Linked DNA regions of Homo sapiens. The protein of the gene in region 1 purifies or fractionates together with the protein of each later gene. This does not show direct contact. Each region holds a gene or a part of one and is shown on either strand. Other genes may lie near its edges.

Region 1 (5,251 bases):
ACCTCAGGTGATCTGCCCGCCTCGGCCTCCTAAAGTGCTGGGATTACAGGCGTGAGCCACCGTGTCTGGCCGGGATTCTTGTTCTTTAACTTAATAATTTAAAATTTACTTCAGCTATTAGTATATCATTACTTAATATTGGTTTAGTATGCTCAAAGTAACACTATGATCAGATGTAGAAACATGCTGGATTTTTTTTTCTGTAGTTACATTATTTAGTAGGAGATATTTTATTAATATTCTTTGAAATATAAAGTAAGGGTAGATAGGAAAGAGAATGTGGGGTGAAGTTAAATCCCCTTCTTTTGTGGTTGCCCCATGGATCAATGCCTCTACTCACCTAAATTTGGTTCAGATGTTGAGACTGACAATAGCACACACGCAGCAAAAGAGTATGAGGAGATTTATTACTTACATATGCCTAAAACAATGCTAGAGCCTGTGCTGAGCTTTAAGCATCTCAGAGATTACTTGAGATGCTCTCTAGAAGTTTATAATCTATAGGTTTTGAGCTGGTGGTCTTGCAGGCTGTCCTCTAGGCTTTGCCTTTTGCAAACTACCTTTTCAATGTTACCAGTGAAACAGCTCTACTTTGGGTACCTAATACTATGTTAGTCTGCTCATTCACTGCTTTCCACCAGTCTGTATGTTAAGCTAGTGTTTTGATAACTGCCCTCTATGCCTGATCACTGATTGTCTAATAGTGAAATAGGTAACTGTACATGACCAGTCCCCCCTTATACACCCCCTTCAGCTAAACATCCCTGAATATAAAAATTAGCCAGGCATGGTGGTGGGCCCCTGTAATCCCAGCTACTTGGGAGGCTGAGTCAGGAGAATCTCTTGAACCCTTGAGGTGGAGGATGCAGTGAGCCGAGATCACGCCACTGCACTCCAGCCTGGGCGACAAAAGCGAAACTCCTTCTCAAAAAACAAACAAACAAAAAAATCCCTGAGAGCAGGCAGTATTGTTCTCTTAGTATTGTCCATATGCTGAGCGTAATGTTTTGCACACAGTGGTTGATATATATTAATATATATAATTTATGCTATATGTACTATAATATCATCAAGATATATGTATATTATATATATTATATAGTTAATTGTGTGTTTAGAGAACTTTTTTTCTAGATATATGATTTATTGACCTAACAATCATTCTACATTCACTTAAATGGAGTGAGGATGGCAAGTGTATGCTGGGAGCAGAGGCAGGGAACACCTGTGTGTCAAGCGCTCCACATGTGTTCTGCCTCAGGCTCTAATATGTGTGTGTATATACACAGACACATACATACATACATACACACATACACATATATATATTACATCAATATATATTATGCCAATATTGTGTATATGTTTATGACTGAAATACTACCTTTATTTATTACACAGTTTTCAGAAGTGTATCAAAAGTTAAAATGGGGACTTCCTGTGACAATAAATTTGGCAATTTCCCAAATGCATTACTACTGACTTCCCTTTTTTGTTATCTGTATGTTAATCACCTTCACTCCATGCACCAATTACCAGTTTTATCATTGCCAGAGCCTTGACTTTGTGGTCCTCACTTCCTCATCTGTGAAAGAGGAGACTAGATCAGCGTTTCAAGATGGCTGCCTGTGCCAGTGTTTTATGACAACTAATGGAAATGATCTGTAATACTTCGGTGGTTTAGAGAACATTAAACATGCTTATGAAAAATTATAGTTTATGTAGTAATGATGACGATCATAAATAATGTTTAATTGGTCCTATTCTTGTGTCAAGCACTGTGCTTTGTGTCTGTCATCTCTCTTGACCGTTACAGCAATTCCATGGAATTTTAAAATTATTTTCATTGCAGATATTAAAACATGAACTTCAATTGAAAAAATGGAAAAATAGGTTAATACTCAAAAGAGCTGCTGCAGAAGAATCCAATTTTCCTGAACGAAGTTCTTCTGAAGTCTTTCTTGTAGATGAGACTCTAAAATGTGACATTTCACTGTTACCTGAAAGAGCAATATTACAGGTTTGTATGAATTCAGTATACATTATATACTATAATCTGCCAAGTGTGGTGGTGCATGCCTGTAATCCCAGCTGCTTGGGAGGCTGAGACAGGAGAATTGCTTGAACCCAGGAGGCAGAGGTTGCAGTGAGCCGAGATCACACCATTGCACTCCAGCCTGGGCGACAATAGCAAAACTCCATCTCAAAAAAAAAAAAAAAAAAAATATATATATATATATATATATATACACATATATATACATATATATGTATGTATACACTATAATCCTACTCTTGATGTATTGCATTCAGTTAGAATAAGGATATTTTTGCCCATTATTTCTTCCTTTACAAATTACCTGCTCCTATCTTGTCTGTTTTTACATTGTAATTCCTATAATTTTCTTACTGGTTTGTAGTAGCTCTTTATATTGGCAATATTAGCCCTTTGGAATATATTTGGAGATTTTTTTCCCCCACACTTGATGTTTGCTTTCAGTTTTGCTTGTGGAGTCTTCTGGTGACAGAATTTTTTTTTTTTTTTTTTTTTTTTGAGATGGAGTTTCGCTCTTGTTGCCCAGGCTGGAAGTGCATTGGTGCAATCTCAGCTCACTGCAACCTCCGCCTCCTGGGTTCAAGCGATTCTCCAGCCTCAGCCTCCAGGTAGCTGGGATTACAGGTGCCCACCACTACGCCCAGCTAATTTTTTGTATTTTTAGTAGAGATGGGGTTTCACCATATTGGCCAGGCTGGTCTTAAACTCCTGACCTCAGGTGATCCACCCACCTTGGCCTCCCAAAGTGCTGGGATTACAGGCATGAACCACCACACCCGGCTGATGACAGAAATTTTAAAGCTTTATGTAATAAAGTCTGTCATCCTTGCCCTAATTATTTCTCTCTCTCTCTCTCTCTCTCTCTCTCTCTCTCTCTCTCTCTCTCTCTCTTTTTAACTTTTATTTTAGGTTGAGGGAGTACATGTGAAGGTTTGTTATATGTAGGTAAATTGCGTGTCATAGGAATTTGGTGTATATTTTGTCACCCAGGTTATAAGCCTAGCATTCAATAGATACTTCTCCAATCCTCACCATCCTCCCACCTCCACCCTCAAGTAGATCCTGGTGTCTGTTCTTCCTTTCTTTGTGTCCATATGTACTCAGAAGTTTAGCTTCCACTTGTAAGTGAGAATGTGTAGTATTTGGTTTTCTGTCTCTGTGTTAGTTTGCCTAGGATAATGGTCTCCAACTCCGTCCATGTTGCTGCAAAGGACATGATCTCATTCTTTTTTATGGCTGCATAGTATTTCAATGTATATATATACCACATTTTAAAAAATCCAGTCTACTGTTGATGGGCATTTAGGTTGATTTCATATCTTTGCTATTGTGAATAGTGCTGTGATGTGCATATGCATGCATGTGTCTTTATGGTAGAATGATTTATATTCCTTTGGGCATATACCCAATAATGGGATTGTTGGGTTGAATGGCAATTCTGTTTTATGTTCTTTGAGAAATGGCCAAACTGCTTTCCACAATGGCTGAGCTAATTTACATTCCCACCAGCAGTGTGTAAGCATTTCCTTTTCTCTGTAACCTTGCCAGTATCTGTTATTTTCTGACTTTTTAATAATAGCCATTCTAACTGGTGTGAGATTTACATTTCTCTAATGATTAGTGATGTTGAGCATTTTTTCATATGCTCATTGGTTGCCTGTATGTCTTCTAAGAAGTGTTTGTTTGTCTGTTTTCACCACTCTTTTAATGGTATTTTTTTTTGTTTTGTTCTGTTTTGTTTTGTTTTGTTTGAGACGGAGTCTCATTCTGTCGCTCAGGCTGGAGTGCAGTGGCGCGATCTCAGCTCACTGCAGGCTCCACCTCCCGGTTTCACGGCATTCTCCTGCCTCAGCCTCCTGAGTAGCTGGGACCACAGGTGCCCGCCACCACGCCCGGCTAATTTTTTGTATTTTTAGTAGAGGCGGGGTTTCACCGTGTTAGCCAGGATGGTCTCGATCTCCTGACCTCGTGATCCACCCGCCTCGGCCTCCCAAAGTGCTGGGATTACAGGCATGAGCCACCGTGCCTGGCTAATGGTGGTGTTTTTTTCTTGTAAATTTGTTTAAGATCCTTATAGATTGTGGATATTAGACTTCTGTTGGATGTATAGTTCACAAATGTTTTATACCATTCTATAGGTTGTCTGTTTATTCTGTTGATAGTTTCTTTTGCTGCTAGAAGTTCTTTTGTTTAATTAGGCCCCATTTGTTAATTTTTGTTTTTGTTGCAATTGCTTTTGGCATCTTCATAATGAAATTTTTGCCAAGTTCTATGCCCAGAATGGTATTTCCTAGGTTATCTTCCAGGGTTGTTATAGTTTTAAGTTTTACATTTAAGTCTTGCATCTATATTGAGTTGATTTTTGTATATGGTGTAAGGAAGTGGTCCAGTTTCAATATTCCGCGTGTGGCTAGCCAGTTATCCCAGTATCATTTATTGAATGAAGAGTTCTTTCCCTGTTGCTTGTTTTTCTTGATTGTGTAGATGTGTGGCATTATTTCTGGGCTCTTTATTCTGTTCCATTAGTCTATATTTCTGGTTTTTTTTTTTATACTTTAAGTTCTAGGGTACATGTGCACAACGTGCAGGTTTGTTACATATGTATACATGTGCCATGTTGGTGTGCTGCACGCATTAACTCGTCATTTACATTAGGTATATCTCCTAATGCTATCCCTCACCCCTCCCCCCACCCCACTACAGGCCCTGGTGTGTGGTGTTCCCCATCCTGTGTCCATGTGTTCTCATTGTTCCATTCCCACCTATGAGTAAGAACATGCGGTGTTTGGTTTTCTGTCCTTGTGATAATTTGCTGAGAATGATGGTTTCCAGCTTCATCCATGTCCCTACAAAGGACATGAACTCATCATTTTTTATGGCTGCATAGTATTCCATGGTATATATGTGCCACATTTTCTTAATCCAGTCTATCATTGTTGGACATTTGGGTTGGTTCCAAGTCTTTGCTATTGTGACTAGTGCCGCAATAAACATACGTGTGCATGTGTCTTTATAGCAGCATGATTTATAATCCTTTGGGTATATACTCAGTAATGGGATGGCTGGGTCAAATGGTAATTCTAGTTCTAGATCCTTGAGGAATCACCACACTGACTTCCACAATCGTTGTACTAGTTTACAGTCCCACCAACGGTGTAAAAGTGTTACTATTTCTCCACATCCTCTCCAGCACTT
Region 2 (5,251 bases), on another chromosome or scaffold:
GGGAGGATCATCTGAGCCTGGGAGGCAGAGGCTGCAGTCAGCTGAGATCGTGCCACTGCACTCCAGCCTGGGTGACAGAGTGAGACCCTGTCTAAAAAAAAAAAAAGTCATTACATATTTTTAAAAATCTGTGAGACAGTCACATCGTTCACCAGGTACAAAAGAGTACATAGCAAATGGTCCCTGTCCCCAAACCTGGTCCCCATTCCAGAGAAAACCACTGTTATACCTGTTTCTGCTTCCAGAGATTTTAATAAATCTGTAAGAACAAATGTGGGTGTGTGTGGTGTGTGTGTGATGTGTGTGTGTAGTGGGTGTGTGGCGCGTGTGTAGGGTGTGTATGGTGTGTATGTGGGGTGTTTGGCGTGTCGTGTGTTAGTGTAGCGTGTACATGGGTTGTGTGGTGTGTGGTATATATGTGGAGGTGTGTGTGGTGTGTGTGTTGCATGTGTATGTGTGTGGGATGTGTGTGCTGGGGGGATGTATGTATATGTGTGGGGTATGTGGGGTGCATATGAGGTGTGTATGTGTGGTGCGTATGTGTGGTGTGTGGATGTGCATGGCGTGTGTGGGATGTGTGGATGTGGTGTGTGTATACGGGGTGTGTGGTGTGTGCTTATGTGGAGTGTGTCGTGTGTGGTATGTGTGCACACAGACACACGGATTAATCTCGTTTCCTCAGATGTGCACGGCTGGCACAGGCCATCCTGACTGTGGCGCACCTTGACCTGCCTCTGTCCTTTTTTCTTAAGCAACAGTAGCTTATCTTTCCCCTTCCTGCGGGTGAGGAATGCAGCAGTGGCCCCTGCTGAGGAGGGCGGCTTCTGGCTTTGCGTCTTCATGAGGTTGCATGAGGTTGCATGAGGTTGTGGTCAGCCGTCAGCCGGGCCTCGTTCCCTGAAGGTCTCATTGCACTAAGCCCTGTGCGCTGCACCTCATTGATCCCTCACAATCCCCCTCTGAGGAAGGGGTGCTAGAGATGGGCTTCCACCATGGCTCGCCCCGGGGCTAGCAGAGTTTTGCTGGCAGTTGGCAGGAAGCTCGGGCTGCGTGAGCGGCCTCACCACGTGGTGGTCGGCTTCCCCAGCGAAAGTTGTGCACGATGCAGGGCAAGAGCTCTGGGAGCTTGGATGCCATTCTTTTTTTTGCTCGGGGGTAAAATTCACATGAAAATGTTAAAGTATACCATTCAGTGGCATCTGTCCTTTTTTTTGGTGGCTGCAGGGTATGCCATTGTGTGGCTGTCCAGTACCATTACTGGAGTTCCGTGCTGGGAGCCATTTGCAGGGTACGTCCCCTCAGCTCCTGCTGCCCGAGGCGGTGGTGCCACTGCCCTTCCCAGGACAGGAGGGGATGGACTCGCTCGCCCTCTGTGGAGCCACTCCAAAGTGGTTCCTTGTTACAGTCTACCAGAGTGGCACATTTATTACAATCGATGAACCTACATGGACACCTCATTGTCACCCAGAGTCCATAGTTGACACTGGGGCGCACTCTTGATGCTGTATGTACTATGGGTTTGGACAACTGTATCATGACATGGATCCATACTGTAGTATTCTACAGAGGAATCTCGCTGCCCTACAAATCCTCTGTGCTCCCGCTAGTCATCCCACCCCTGAGCTTTTTACTGTCTCCATAGTTTTGCCTTTTCCAGAATGTCATATGCTTGGAACCATGCAATCTGCAGCCTTTTCCGACTGGCTTCTTTGGCTTAGTAATCTGCTTTTAAGGTTCTTCCATGTCTTTTCTTGGCTTGATAGCTCATTTCTTTTTAGCGCTGAATAAGCGTAACTTTTTTAAGGGAGATGTGTGGGCTGCAGTGATGACTTTGGCTTTCTTTCCAAAAATGACGGCAGCCATACTGTGATCCCTGCCCCCAACTGCTGCACAGAGAAGAGGGTGAATGCGGCGAGGGTGGGTGGAAGGTGGGCGGTGAGCTGGGGGGTTATGGTGATAACCTAGGCAAGAGATCAAGGTTGTGGTAGGGAGCAGTGGTTCTCAAACAGGGACAATCGTGTCCTCCACAGGACATTTAGACAAATGTCTGGAGACATTTTTAGTTGTCGCAGCTGGGAGAGAGGGACTATTGGCATCTACTGGGTAGAGGCCAGGGATGCTGCTCAACATCCTGCAATGCACAGGACGGGCCTCCCAACCCAGAATGATCTGGCCCCAGATACCAACCGTGCCCAGGTGGAGAAACCCTGGCGTAAAGGGGACAGGTCTCTCCTGGGTACATTTTGAAGGTAGAGCTGACAGGCCTTGCTTACAGATTGAATGAGAGGAGTCTTTGTGTTTTCCAGTCCATGCATGCCTGTTCTTTTTTCTTTCTTTAATTAAATAACATCTGGCTGGGCGTGGTGACTCATGCCTATAATCTCAACATTTTGGGAGGCCGAGACAGGTGGATCACTTGAAGCCAGGAGCTCAAGACCAGCCTGGCCAACATGGTGACACCCTGTCTCTACTAAAAATACCAAAAAATTAGCCAGGCATGGTGGGGCATGCCTGTAATCTCGGCTACTCGGTAGGTTGAGGCATAAAAATTGCTTGAACCCGAGAGACGTATGTCGCAGTGAGCCAACTGCCACTGCACTCCAGCCTGGGCGACAGAGCGAGACTCTGTCTCAAAAATGAAATAAAATAAACTAAAATAAATAAATATGTAACCCAATATGTCCAAACTATTATAATTTCAATGTGTAATTAATATGGACTATTAATGAGACACTGTATTTTTTGTCATGCTAAGTCTTCAAAACCTAGTGTGTGCATTTTACAAATGAAGCACATCGCAACATGCTGAGTTTTCAGGGGTAGTGTGGAGTGCGCCAGAGCAACAACGTTGTGTGTGTTTTTCTTTTTTTGGTTTTCTTTTTGTGTGTGTGTGAGATGGAGTTTCGCTCTTTTTGCTCAGGCTGGAGTGTAATGGCGCAATCTCGGCTCACTGCAACCTCCACCTCCCGGGTTCAAATGATTCTCCTGCCTCAGCCTCCCTAGTAGCTGGGATTACAGACGCACGCCACCACGCCCAGCTAATTTTGTATTTTTAGTAGAGACGGGGTTTCACCATGTTGGTCAGGCTGGTCTCGAACTCCTGACCTCAAGTGATCTGCCCACCTCGGCCTCCCAAAGTGCTGGGATTACAGGCATGAGCCACCGCGCCCAGCCAACGTTGTGTTTAATGGAAAATATTTTACACTGCTTCAGTTTTTCACCTTAAGTTTAAATGAATGGAACTTAAATGAAATGAACAACTCTTTTCCTTAGTTGCACTGGCCACATATCAGGTGTTTAGTGGCCACAAGCTACTAGCAGCTTCTGTCCTTCTTGGCCAGCACAGGCCTAGAGCCTACCCAGGAGGGGGCACCTTACTGGAGGTGCACTCCAAAGGTCAGTTCTCATCCTGCTGGGAGTCCTTCCAGAGTTCTCATTGCCCTCTGGATAAAGGTCATGCATGCTGTGTAGCCTGGCTCTTTAGGCCTCAGTTTCCTCATCTGTAAAATAGAATTCTGAAAGCACACACTTCCAGGATAATTGTGAGGATTAAAAGATGTTGCGGACTGGGGACGGTGGCTCACGCCTGTAATCCCAGCACCTTGGGAGGCTGAGGCAGGTGGATTATGAGGTCTGGAGTTCAATACCAGCCTGGCCAACATGGCAAAACCCTGTCTCTACTCAAAATACAAAAATTAGCTGGGTGTAGTGGTGCATACCTGTAATCCCAGCTACTCGGGAGTCTGAGGCAGGAGAATAGCTTGAGCCTGGGAAGCAGAGGTTGCAGTGAGCCAAAATGGTGCCACTGCACTCTAGCCTGGATGATAGAGCAAGACTCTGTCTCAAAAAAAAAAAAAAGAGAGAGATGACACAGCCGGGCGCAATGGCTCATGCCTGTAATCCCAGCACTTTGGGAGGCCCAGGCAGGTGGATCACTTTAGGTCAGGAGCTTGAGACCAACCTGGCCAACATGGTGAAACCCTGTCTCTACTATATATACAAAAATTAGCCGGGTGTGGTGGCAGGTTACTATAATCCCAGCTACTTGGGGGGCTGAGGCTGAAGAATAGTTTGAACCTGCGAGCGGAGGTTACAGTGAGCCAAGATTGCTCCACTGCACACTCCAGCCTGGGCAACAGAACGAGAGTCCATCTCAAAATGAAATAAATAAGTAAATAAATAAAATAAAAAAATTAAAAAAGATGATGCTTCCATCAATGGAGGAATGGATAAAATATGGTATATCCATACAATGGAATGTTATTCAGCCATGAAAAAGAATGAAGTGCTGATACCACTTACGACATGAATGAACCTGGAAAACATCATGCTGAGTGAAAGCAGTCAGACACAAAAGGTCACGTATTTTATGGACACATTTATATTAAATGTCTGGGACAGGTAAATCCATAAAGGAAGAAAGTATATCTGTGGTTGCAGGGGCCAGAGGGAAGGGAAATTGGGAATGACTGCTCATAGGTTTCCTTTGGGGGGTGATGAAAATTTCCTAGAGTTAGTGGTGATGGTTATACAACCCTGTGAATATCTTTAAAAGGCTGAACTGTGTGGATTGTGAATTATATCTCAAAAGCATACTTCAAAAAAAGATAATGCTTGCATATGCAGGCCCATGGCAAGGGATGATAGTGGTTGGTGGTGATGATGGTGACGATGATTGACGATAATTATATTGTTAATGGTAGTGATGATGATGGCGGTGATGGTGATGTGGTGGTGATGGTGATAGTGATGGTGATAGTGATGGTGATGTTGGTGATGTCATGGTGATGATGGTGGTGGTGATGGTGGTGGTGGTGATGGTGATAGTGATGGTGGTGGTGGTGAGGATGGTGGTGATGGTGATGGTGGTGAGGATGAGAATGGTGATGATGATGATTGTGATGGTGGTGAAGATAGTGGTGATGGTGGTGATGATGATGTTGGTGATGGTGGTTGTGATGATGTTGGTGATGGTGCTTGTGATGACAGTGGTGGTGGTGGTGACTGCAAGCTCAGGACCTTTCCCCCTCTCCCAGGTCTGGTCCGAGAGCAGGAGGCTGGGCTGCTGCAGTTCCTCCGCCTGGACGGCTTCTCTGTGTTGATGAGGGCCATGCAGCAGCAGGTGCAGAAGCTCAAGGTCAAATCAGCATTCCTGCTGCAGAACCTGCTGGTGGGCCACCCTGAACACAAAGGTGTGGCAGCCCTTGAGTGAGGGCAGGAGTGGGGAGCAGACGCCCTGGGGTGGGTGCAG
Region 3 (4,620 bases), on another chromosome or scaffold:
TGAGCCGAGATCATACCACTGCACTCCAGTCTGGGCAACAGAGCCAGACTTGTCTCAAAAAAAAAGGTAGATGATGCATTAAGAAATCAACAAATTAGCCGGGCACAGTGGCTCAAGCCTGTAATCCCAGTACTTCGGGAGGAGGCCAAGGTGGATGGATCGCTTGAGCTCAGGAGTTTGAGACCTAGCCTGGGCAACATAGCGAAACCCTGTCTCTACAAAAATTACCTGGATGTGGTGACGTGTGCCTGTAGTCCCAGCTACTTGAGAGGCTGAGGTGGAAGGATCGCTTTACCCTGGGGGGCGGAGGTTGCAGTGAGTTGAGATCGCACCACTGCACTCCAGTCTGGGTGACAGAGACCTGGTCTCAAAAAAAAAAAAAAAAAAAAGAATCAACAAATTAAAAAAAATCAGCCGGGCACGGTGGCTCACGCCTGTAATCCCAGCACTTTGGGAGGCTGAGGCGGGCGGATCACGAGGTCAGGAGATCAAGACCATCCTGGCTAACATGGTGAAACCCCGTCTCTACTAAAAATACAAAAAATTTGCCGGGCGTGGTGGCGGGCACCTGTGGTCCCAGCGACTTGGGAGGCTGAGGCAGGAGAATGGCGTGAACCCGGAAGGCGGAGCTTGCAGTGAGCCAAGATTGCGCCACTGTACTCCAGCCTGGGCGACAGAGCGAGACTCTGTCTCAGAAAAAAAAAAAAAAAGGAATCTAATTCAAATGAGTTAAGTTATGAAAAGAAAGGGATAATCTCTGTGGCTGAAAAAATAGGCAGGTCCTGAGGTATGGCTTGGTCTGTGTGTGTCTCTCTCTTCCCGCCTCCCTGTCTCCTTCCTTCATCCCTTCACTTCACTTCCTCGTGTTAGCTCTCACACGTTTTCCTAGAAAGGGGGGTAAGATGGTCCCAGGCAGCTTCTCTCTTCTCTAATTCCAGTAAAATGAGAGATGATGACGTCCCTCTCCAATCAGGCTGTGATGACATTTTAGTGCAAATGTTACATTGTTTTTTTTTTTTCTCTTAATACTGGCCGGCCCCAGAGTCGCTGTGATGAAATGGGTTCATGCCATGTAGATTTGACAGCCTGAACACTAAGTCATCATCTGCAACTGAGTTTTTGACTCATGACTTTTGATTTCGGAATTAGGCTGTTTTCACTTTTTATTGACATGTAACATGCGTATAGACAAGTGTACATACAGATCCTGAGTGTGTGGCCAATGGATATCCTTCCTCAGTGCCCAGACCCAGGAGCAGGACCTTCCCAGTACCCACATCCCCTCTGTTAGCCAGTATCCTCCCTTCTGAGGGTAAAGTTGTCCTGGCTTCTAACCCTGTAGATGAGTTTTGTCTCTGTTTTCACTTGATATAGCATACAGCATCTCCTTTTATGTCTGACCTCTGTTGCTCAACACTCTGCTTGTGAGCTCCTTCCCTGTTGTGTGTTTGGGTGCCCCTGGCTCTCGTGCAGTGGGGCAGTGCCATGCATGATGAGCTGCAGCTGAATTGCTTGTTCTGCAGTTGACAGGCCTTTGGGCAGGTTCCTGTTGCTCGCTGCTGTGAGTGCAGCCGCTGTGAGTGCGGCCGCTGTGAATACCCTTGCACGTGTTGTTGGTGCACAAGTGTGTCACTGCCAAATCCAGCATCTTGACTTAGCCCTCTCTTTTCTTCTAAGAGTTTTATAGCATTATTTCTATGGTTTTCCATTCATTTTGAGCTAAATTTTGTATATGATGTGAGGTGGTCCACCTTCATCCCTTTACATATAGATAACCAGTTTTCCCTGCACCAGTTGTTGAAGACACTGTCCTTTCTCCACTGAATCATCTTGGCACCTGTGTAAAAAGGAAATATTTGACCATATGTATGAGTTTGTTTCTTCCCTCTCTGTTCTGTTCTATCAGTCTGTGTGTTGTTTTTATCCAGTACCACACTGGCCTGGTTGCTGTTGCTTTATAGTAAGTTTTGAAAATGGGAGGTTTGTTGGGCACGGTGGCTCACACCTGTAATCCCAGCACTTTGGGAGGCCAAGGTGGATGGATCACCTGAGGTCAGGAGTTTGAGACCAGCCTGGCCAACATGGTGAAACCCCATCTCTACTAAAAATACAAAAATTAGCCGGCTGTGGTGGGTGCCTGTAATCCCAGCTACTCAGGAGGCTGAGGCAGGAATATCGCTTGAACCTGGCAGGCAGAGGTTGCAGTGAGCTGAGATCGCACCATTCATTGCACTCCAGTCTGGGTGACAAGAACGAAACTCCATCTCACAGAAAAAAGAAAATGGGAGGTTTTAGTTTTCCAACCTTGTTCTTCTTTTTAAAGATTGTTTTGCCCTATTTGGGATTTCTTGAGATTCCATATGAATTTTAGGATCAGCTTGTCAATTTCAACCAAGAAGCCACCTTGCGTCTTCTAATACGTGAACATGGATGTCTTTTTATATAGGTCTTAAAATTTCTTTCAACAATGTTTCGTAGGTTTTAGAGTATGAGGCTTTGTATTTCTTTTAAGTTTATTCCTGTTTTCTTCTTTCTGTTACTATTGTAAATGGAATTTTCTTGAAATTGTTTTCAGATTGTTACAAGTATATGAAAATACAATAGGTTTTTGTATGTTGATCTTTCATCCTGCAACCTTGCTGAACTAATGTATGAGTTCTGATAGTTTTAGTGGACTCCTTAGGATTTTCTATGTACAGAATCATGTCATGTGAATAGAGTTCATTTTCCTTCCTTTCAAATCTGGATGATTTTAATTTCCTTTTCTTGCCTGGTTGCCCTGGCTAGCCTCCGGGACAATGTTGAACAGAAGTGGCAAGAACAGGCATCCTTGTTTTGTTCCTGATCTTAGGGGGAAGCATTCAGCGTTTTGCCATGTAAGCATGCTGTTAGTTGTGGGGTTTTGTAGATGCCTTATGTTAGGTTGAGGGGCTTCCTTTATACTCCTTAGTCGTTGAGTATTTTAGTTTACTTTTAACTATATACAGATATATTACTTTCCAGTTAAAGTAGTCAGTTACTCTGTTAAGACAAAAATATTGGGTCAGCATTTTAGACATAGTATATAGTCCCATACTGCATCTTTGGGTCAGCGATGGACCACATATGACAGTGGTCCCGTGAGATTATAATCCTCTATTTTTGCTGTATTTTTCCTATGTTTAGATACACAAACATTTACCATTGTTAGAATTGCCTGTAGTATTCAGTACTGTAACATGCTGTATAGGTCGGTAGTCTAGGAACAATAGGCTATACCACAGAGCCTAGGTGTACAGGAGGCGCCACCATCCAGGTGTGTGTAAGTGCACTCTAGAATGTTCACACAATAGCAAAATCGCCTAATGATGGCGTTTTTCAGAGTGCACCCTCGTTGTTAAAGCTTAGTTTTAGTGTTACTTTGCTTACCCCTTCCCCGGTTGATCAGCACGTAGGTTGCTTGGATTTTCTTCATGCTCACAGGTGTGTGTTAGTCAACATTCAGCCAGTGTTTTTGGAGCAGCTATGGGTGCCTGGTGGTTTCTCAGGGCTGAGGATACAGCAGTGGCAAAACTCAGCCATCTCTGCCTTCTTGGAGTTTCTAGTTGGAGGGAGAGAGTAGTGTGAAGCCTCTGTCCAGAGGGTGGGCCTGCTGGTGGGAAGGCCTGTCACTGTGGTGACCGTGTGAGGTGACGGCTGGGAGGTGGCTTGAGAGCTGGTGAGTGGGTCTGTCTGCTCTGGTTGCCATGGCTGAGGCTCAGCCCACTTCCCCAGGGCCTGCCCTCCACGGATGACTGGCGACGGACGGTCTCCTTACGGCCGCATTCTGTCCCTGCCCGCCTGTGTTCTTGCCGTTGGCTCAGAACTCCCTCTCCCAGCCTCTCCTGGTGTCGTCACACCCCAGGCTCCCTGGACCCTTCTGTGACCTGCCTGTCATCCCAGCCCGCTCTCCTTGGGCTGACCCTGGGCTGCAGGGAACAGGATGGGTGTCGGCCGGTCTGTCCCACACAGCTAGCTGACGAGGTGGTTTCTGGGGCAGGAGTGGAGGCAGCACAGACAGTGAGGACGAAGAAGAGGAGGACGAGGAGGAGGAGGAAGACGAGGAGGGCATTGGCTGTGCAGCCCGTGGAGGGGCCACCCCTCTGTCCTACCCCAGCCCTGGCCCTCAGCCTCCAGGTGAATGAATGGGCGGTGTGGTCAGGTGTACACAGGGCTGTCTGCCTGCTACTGAGTTCACCCTCCATCCCGCTCCCCCACCTCTATCCCAGGCCCCAGCTGGACAGCCACCTTTGACCCAGTGCCTACAGATGCCCCGACCAGCCCCCGAGTCTCCGGGGAGGAAGAGCTGCACACTGGGCCTCCAGCCCCACAGGGGCCCCTCAGTGTGCCCCAGGGCCTCCCCACTCAGAGCCTGGCCAGCCCTCCTGCCCGTGACGCCCTGCAGCTCAGGTGAGAACCGGATGGAACGGGCTAAATGGTGCTGGTATCCCGAGGCCAGGAGGTGGCCATGGGGTCCCCGTCCTCTCATAGGCTCGAGTGCTAACCCTAGCTGCCCCCTTGGGCTGCCTCTCTCGCCTACCAGGTCTCAGGACCCCACACCCCCCTCAGCACCTCAGGAAGCCACAGAAGGCAGCAAAGTCA
Region 4 (5,251 bases), on another chromosome or scaffold:
AGTGTTTATGTGTCTATACATACATATAAACATATTTATGTATATATTTTGACCAATTTTAGTGTAAGTATAGTTTTTAGAATAATGTCTTATCTAAAATCATGTTTCCTTTTAATTTTGATTTTACATTTCCTAGCTTCAGAGGTTAACCAAAATAGTTACCTTAATTTTTTTGCGAAGGAGGAGAATCATAAAGACTTTCAAAATGCATGTTGTTATGTTCTTTAGATATCATTTGCTGTTTCTGAAGCTAAAGAGAAATGGAAGAGTGAGCTTGAAAATATGAGGAAAAATATACTTCCTGGAAAGGAATTGGAAGAGAAGATTCATTCTCTTCAGAAGGAACTTGAGTTAAAGAACGAAGAAGTCCCTGTGGTCATCAGGGCTGAGTTAGCTAAGGCTCGGAGTGAATGGAACAAAGAAAAGCAAGAAGAAATCCACAGAATCCAAGAACAAAATGAGCAAGATTACCGGCAATTTTTAGATGATCACCGAAATAAAATTAATGAGGTGCTTGCGGCAGCTAAAGAAGACTTTATGAAACAAAAAACTGAACTACTTCTTCAGAAGGAGACAGAATTACAAACTTGTCTAGACCAGAGTCGTAGAGAATGGACTATGCAGGAAGCCAAGCGGATCCAACTGGAAATCTATCAGTATGAGGAAGACATCCTGACTGTACTTGGGGTTCTTTTAAGTGATACCCAAAAGGAGCACATCAGTGATTCTGAGGACAAGCAGCTTTTGGAAATCATGTCGACTTGTTCTTCAAAATGGATGTCTGTGCAATATTTTGAAAAACTAAAGGGCTGCATACAGAAAGCATTTCAAGATACACTTCCTCTGCTTGTAGAAAACGCTGACCCAGAATGGAAAAAGGTATGTTCCTGAGAGTGAGAGAAGGTATTGAACACCAAGAATGATTATAGAAGTTGTATATAGTGTTTTTTCCTTTTTTCCTTTTAAATTTTAGTAGATGTAAGTCTTATGTTTTTGTCAGTGGTTTAAAAAAGTTTCTGTAGCGAAATCCAAAGGTTTGCATGTTTCGTTGCCAAAAAACTTTACTACTTCATAGTGTCACAAATACAAGACAAGATTTTAGCCTCTAAATATCTTTTTCCTAAAGAATATTTAGGACAAATACCTAATGCATGCGGGGCCTAAAACCTAGATGACAGGTTGATAGGTGCAGCAAACCACCATGGCACATGTATACCTATGTAGTAAACCTTCACGTTCAGCACATGTATCCCAGAACTTAAAATAAAATAAAGAATATATGCTGTTCTTTCTAAGGGCCTGAGATTTCAGAAACTGAAAATTTTTTTTTCAAAATTCTGTTTTCTGGGCCTGACCACTTCATGAAATATGCATAATAAGAGTTTCTTAAAAGCTTGTAAAGAGTTTGGAAGCCTATTTATTGCCCTCAATAAATTTATGTCTCATTTAGGCAAAAAAATGCCAACCAAGTACAAAGGTATTGATATAGAAACAAGCAAATAAATACGACTCACTCGCATAAAACTCTGAAGCCCAGTTTCTGGATGTACTATATATGTGCATATAGAATTAATTATATTCTTTTAGTTATATAAGTACTCTCTGAGACCAGCTTTTAATTTGTATGAAAGTTTCAGTAAAACCAAATTCTTGCTACCTTATGATCAAAGCAATTAGGTATGCATGAAAGATCCAGAATGATATTCTGAGCATGGTGATTAGCCAATTTCAACATTTGGGATTAGAGGCAGGAAAAAAAAAAAAGCCAGTATTATAAGGTTTGTCTAATAGAGTTGAGACTTAAGAGTGAAGTTCCATCAAAATATTGTGATTAAGGAGTTTCAAGGCCAGGATTGAGCATTTGGTATTAATACCTACTTGGGAGAGTTATAAACTAGAAAAAATAACCTTGAGTTTCAGTTCCATATTCGATGATAACTAGATTATTATATTGGGCAATCACATAGTTGCTCACTGGAAAAATAAAATACAAATCCCCGGCCTAATTCCTTGGGTTTGGGTAGGATATGCATGGCACAGCTTAGCCTTTCTGGGTCCTGCATTTGAAACAGTATAGAATTTTAGAGCCAGAAGGGACCTGAAAGATCAGCTCACTCCATCCTACTTCACCCCAGTTGATATTTTTATCCTTGACCTCACAAAGATGTTGCTACCGAGTAGTTGCCTTCAATGTAAAATTTACTGGGCAAGATCACTTCCCATGAATACTGCTTCACACTTAATTGAGATTTTTTGGAGAAAATAATTAAAATAACTTGGAGAAAACATATAATTAAAAAATTATAGCAGATTTGGAGATGAGAAATGATGGGAAAATCATGTTTACATGCTTTCGTTTGTAAGCATGTTTCGATTTTTATAACAGTTATAAAATCTGTTATAAAAATCAAGAAACTATGACACCTTTCTCCTACCATTAATATATACATATAAAATCAACCCTGGAGTCTTTTTACAGGGCTTATAATTGTGCAAGCAGTATAAGATCATCTGTGTGACTTAATGAGGCTCATAAGTCTATGGAGACAGAATCACATAATCTGGCTAAGAATTTAGATGTTTACGGCTTTTGTTGGGTGGGTCAGATTCCATTCCTGAGAAAAGGATGGCTTTGAAATGCCTAATCTGGAATTTGTCATAGAAGTAATACTTGACCTTCTGCCATTTTCGAGCTATCTTCACTCAGGACCTTGAGGTAAAGCTATGATTATAGAGCAGTGATTTTAAATTTGTTACATAGGTGCTGTAAATGTGAGGAACTATAATTTATAATTTATTAACTCTCTAGTTTTAAAAATTGTTCATGGAAATTAAAACAAAAGATGGTTTATTAATATATAAAAACAAGTCCTCATTAAAATAACTGAGACAATCAAAAGTTTTTTTAAATGGAGAGGATGCAATGAATGAAAAATATAGCTTTCAAGAAAATGAATGCCATATCAAAATATATTAATACAGTAGTTCATAACAGATAAAACAAATATCAAATGGAACAAAATTTTCAAGCAAACTTAAGGATGTATGTTGTCTCTTTTACCATCAAAGTCAAGTTAAAACTGAGACAAAAAGGTTGTTGCTTTTCTCCCTTTTCTGTTATCTTGACTTTTCTTCCCCAGTTTTGAGTAAAAACTGGAAGCACTGACTGCATTTTGGTTCAGCTTTTCCTACTCCTTTTGACCTCAAACCCATAGCTTCTTGATTGCCTCTTCTCTATAATTGCTAACCTCTGCTTCTGTTGGACATTGTAAGTAGGTTTTCTGACAGTCAATTAAGTGGTTTCTCATAATCAAAATCAAGGCTTCTAGAATCAGGCATATATAGTATGTTTTAAATAATCAGTAAGACTACTTTCTCCATACCACCTATTCTGTTCCTTTCCGATTTAGTAGTCATCTTAAATCTGAAAACATTACCATAAAAATCCATTGATTTGGCTGAGCGTGGTGGCTCACACCTGTAATCCCAGTACTTTGGGAGGCCAAAGCAGGCGGATCACGAGGGTTGAGGCAGGAGAATCGCTTGAACTGGGAGGTGGAGGTTGCAGTGAGCTGAGATCGCGCCAATGCCCTTCAGCCTGGCCGATAGAGGAGGACTCCATCTCAAAACAAAAACCAAAAATGAAAAATCCATTGATTTAGTAGCTGTATTGCTGTGACAAGGACTGGAACATAAAAACGTTCAATAAATATTAGTGAAGAAATGGTCTTGTGCAAGATGTTTAATTTAGCTAAGCCTCAGTTTCTGTCCTTAACTTTGGCATTCAGCTGGCCTTCCTTACAAAATTACTGTGTATGTTAAAGTATTTAGAAGCATATGAAGTACTATATAAATTTAAAATGATTTTTAACTGTTATTTTCAATTCATAGGAGGCAGAGGGTTAGCATTATACTTGCTAATTAACTTGTTCCTTGCTGTAGTAAAAATGTTCTAGATTTTCAAGAACAATTCTGATTTTATATTGTCTTTCATGTGGTTTAATCACGTAAACCATTGAAAAATCTCAAATTCACATATATAATGTGCAAACCATATCTTCTGTCTGTCTCATAGCTGCCCACCAGTCGCCTGTCAGACAGTGTTCTTATTTGGAAAGTTTCATAGGAAGCTAGTTCCTAGTACAGTGACAGTACTTATATAACACCCTAAGAAAAATATTGGCGATAGATAGTTCAGGCAAGATTTTTTTCAGGTAGTGTTTTCTCTTTGTATTTTTAATATTAGCATTTTAAATATAAAATTGTATAAAGATTTTTACTAAGCATTAACTTTGAAGATACTTTATTTCAGAGAAATATGGCCGAGCTCTCTAAGGATTCTGCCAGCCAGGGCACTGGCCAAGGAGACCCTGGACCTGCTGCTGGACACCATGCTCAGCCCTTGGCCTTACAAGCAACAGAAGCAGAAGCTGGTAATTGGATTTTGTTCCCACCAGTCTTTGTAGCATCCATAATCACCCATCTGAAGGGTTGCTTTGAGGATAAAAGGAGATCATAGATGTGAACAAATGGGTAATAATCGTCTGACTTAATGTCCCCTCTTCCTAGATTTCATTTTGTATTTAGATAAGAGGGTTAATTTAGGCCCTCTTCTTCTATTTATGGTTTTCCCTTCATTCACAACTGATTCTTGTTACAAGGAGAATCATGAGAGTTTTAATGGAGAAGTCATGTTTTTATTCCCTGAAATCAAGGGTTTCACATCAGAGAATTGCCAAGTAATACAGACTTTTTCATTCAAATTACTGAAACTAATTTCAATCACTTTTTAATGGAAATCTTTCTGAAATGTATTAGATGTTTTCTAATTGATTTGTGAGTTTTTCTGAGGGCCTGGGCAGTGTTTTTAATCTCTTCCTTTCCAACGTATGGCAGAGTGATGAATTAATAGTTTAACTTTTCCTTAATGACTTAGACTCTTCATCATGACAAAAGAATTCTTATACTGTACTAGAGCCGCTTGTATTCAGAGCTTACTGAGGAGTATAGGACTTATATTGCCTATTCATGGAGATTTCAGAGCTAGAAATTTGCAAATCCTTTATTAGCTCCCATCTCTTTTAGCTTCTTGACCCTTTGCAGCCTACTCCTTTCCTCCCCACACAAACGCAACAGCCTCTCTCTGCTGCTTATTTGCTGTTTCTAATGTAACCTGGAAAAGAACTAATAATTGCCAAGGCCAGTCATACCTACTAAGTAAATAACCTCAGTTTGCACACATTTCTAATTC

What was found. The genes of interacting proteins can lie anywhere in the genome.
Region 2: the proteins of FBXL13 (region 1) and HSPBP1 purify together in Homo sapiens (affinity purification with mass spectrometry, with the first as the bait; one large-scale study listed by BioGRID). This does not show direct contact.
Region 3: the proteins of FBXL13 (region 1) and PPP6R1 purify together in Homo sapiens (affinity purification with mass spectrometry, with the first as the bait; one large-scale study listed by BioGRID). This does not show direct contact.
Region 4: the proteins of FBXL13 (region 1) and CEP152 purify together in Homo sapiens (affinity purification with mass spectrometry, with the first as the bait; one large-scale study listed by BioGRID). This does not show direct contact.

What each region holds. Positions count from the first base shown.
Region 1 is NC_000007.14:103,021,832-103,027,082, reverse strand, and holds part of FBXL13 (F-box and leucine-rich repeat protein 13), read left to right. Parts: intron 1-1,852; coding exon 1,853-2,020; intron 2,021-5,251. UniProt on the Homo sapiens protein: Substrate-recognition component of the SCF (SKP1-CUL1-F-box protein)-type E3 ubiquitin ligase complex.
Region 2 is NC_000019.10:55,266,072-55,271,322, reverse strand, and holds part of HSPBP1 (hsp70-binding protein 1), read left to right. Parts: intron 1-5,036; coding exon 5,037-5,192; intron 5,193-5,251. UniProt on the Homo sapiens protein: Inhibits HSPA1A chaperone activity by changing the conformation of the ATP-binding domain of HSPA1A and interfering with ATP binding. Interferes with ubiquitination mediated by STUB1 and inhibits chaperone-assisted degradation of immature CFTR.
Region 3 is NC_000019.10:55,231,610-55,236,229, reverse strand, and holds part of PPP6R1 (serine/threonine-protein phosphatase 6 regulatory subunit 1), read left to right. Parts: intron 1-4,018; coding exon 4,019-4,155; intron 4,156-4,247; coding exon 4,248-4,428; intron 4,429-4,561; coding exon 4,562-4,620. UniProt on the Homo sapiens protein: Regulatory subunit of protein phosphatase 6 (PP6). May function as a scaffolding PP6 subunit. Involved in the PP6-mediated dephosphorylation of NFKBIE opposing its degradation in response to TNF-alpha.
Region 4 is NC_000015.10:48,751,531-48,756,781, reverse strand, and holds part of CEP152 (centrosomal protein of 152 kDa), read left to right. Parts: intron 1-228; coding exon 229-879; intron 880-4,312; coding exon 4,313-4,433; intron 4,434-5,251. UniProt on the Homo sapiens protein: Necessary for centrosome duplication; the function also seems to involve CEP63, CDK5RAP2 and WDR62 through a stepwise assembled complex at the centrosome that recruits CDK2 required for centriole duplication.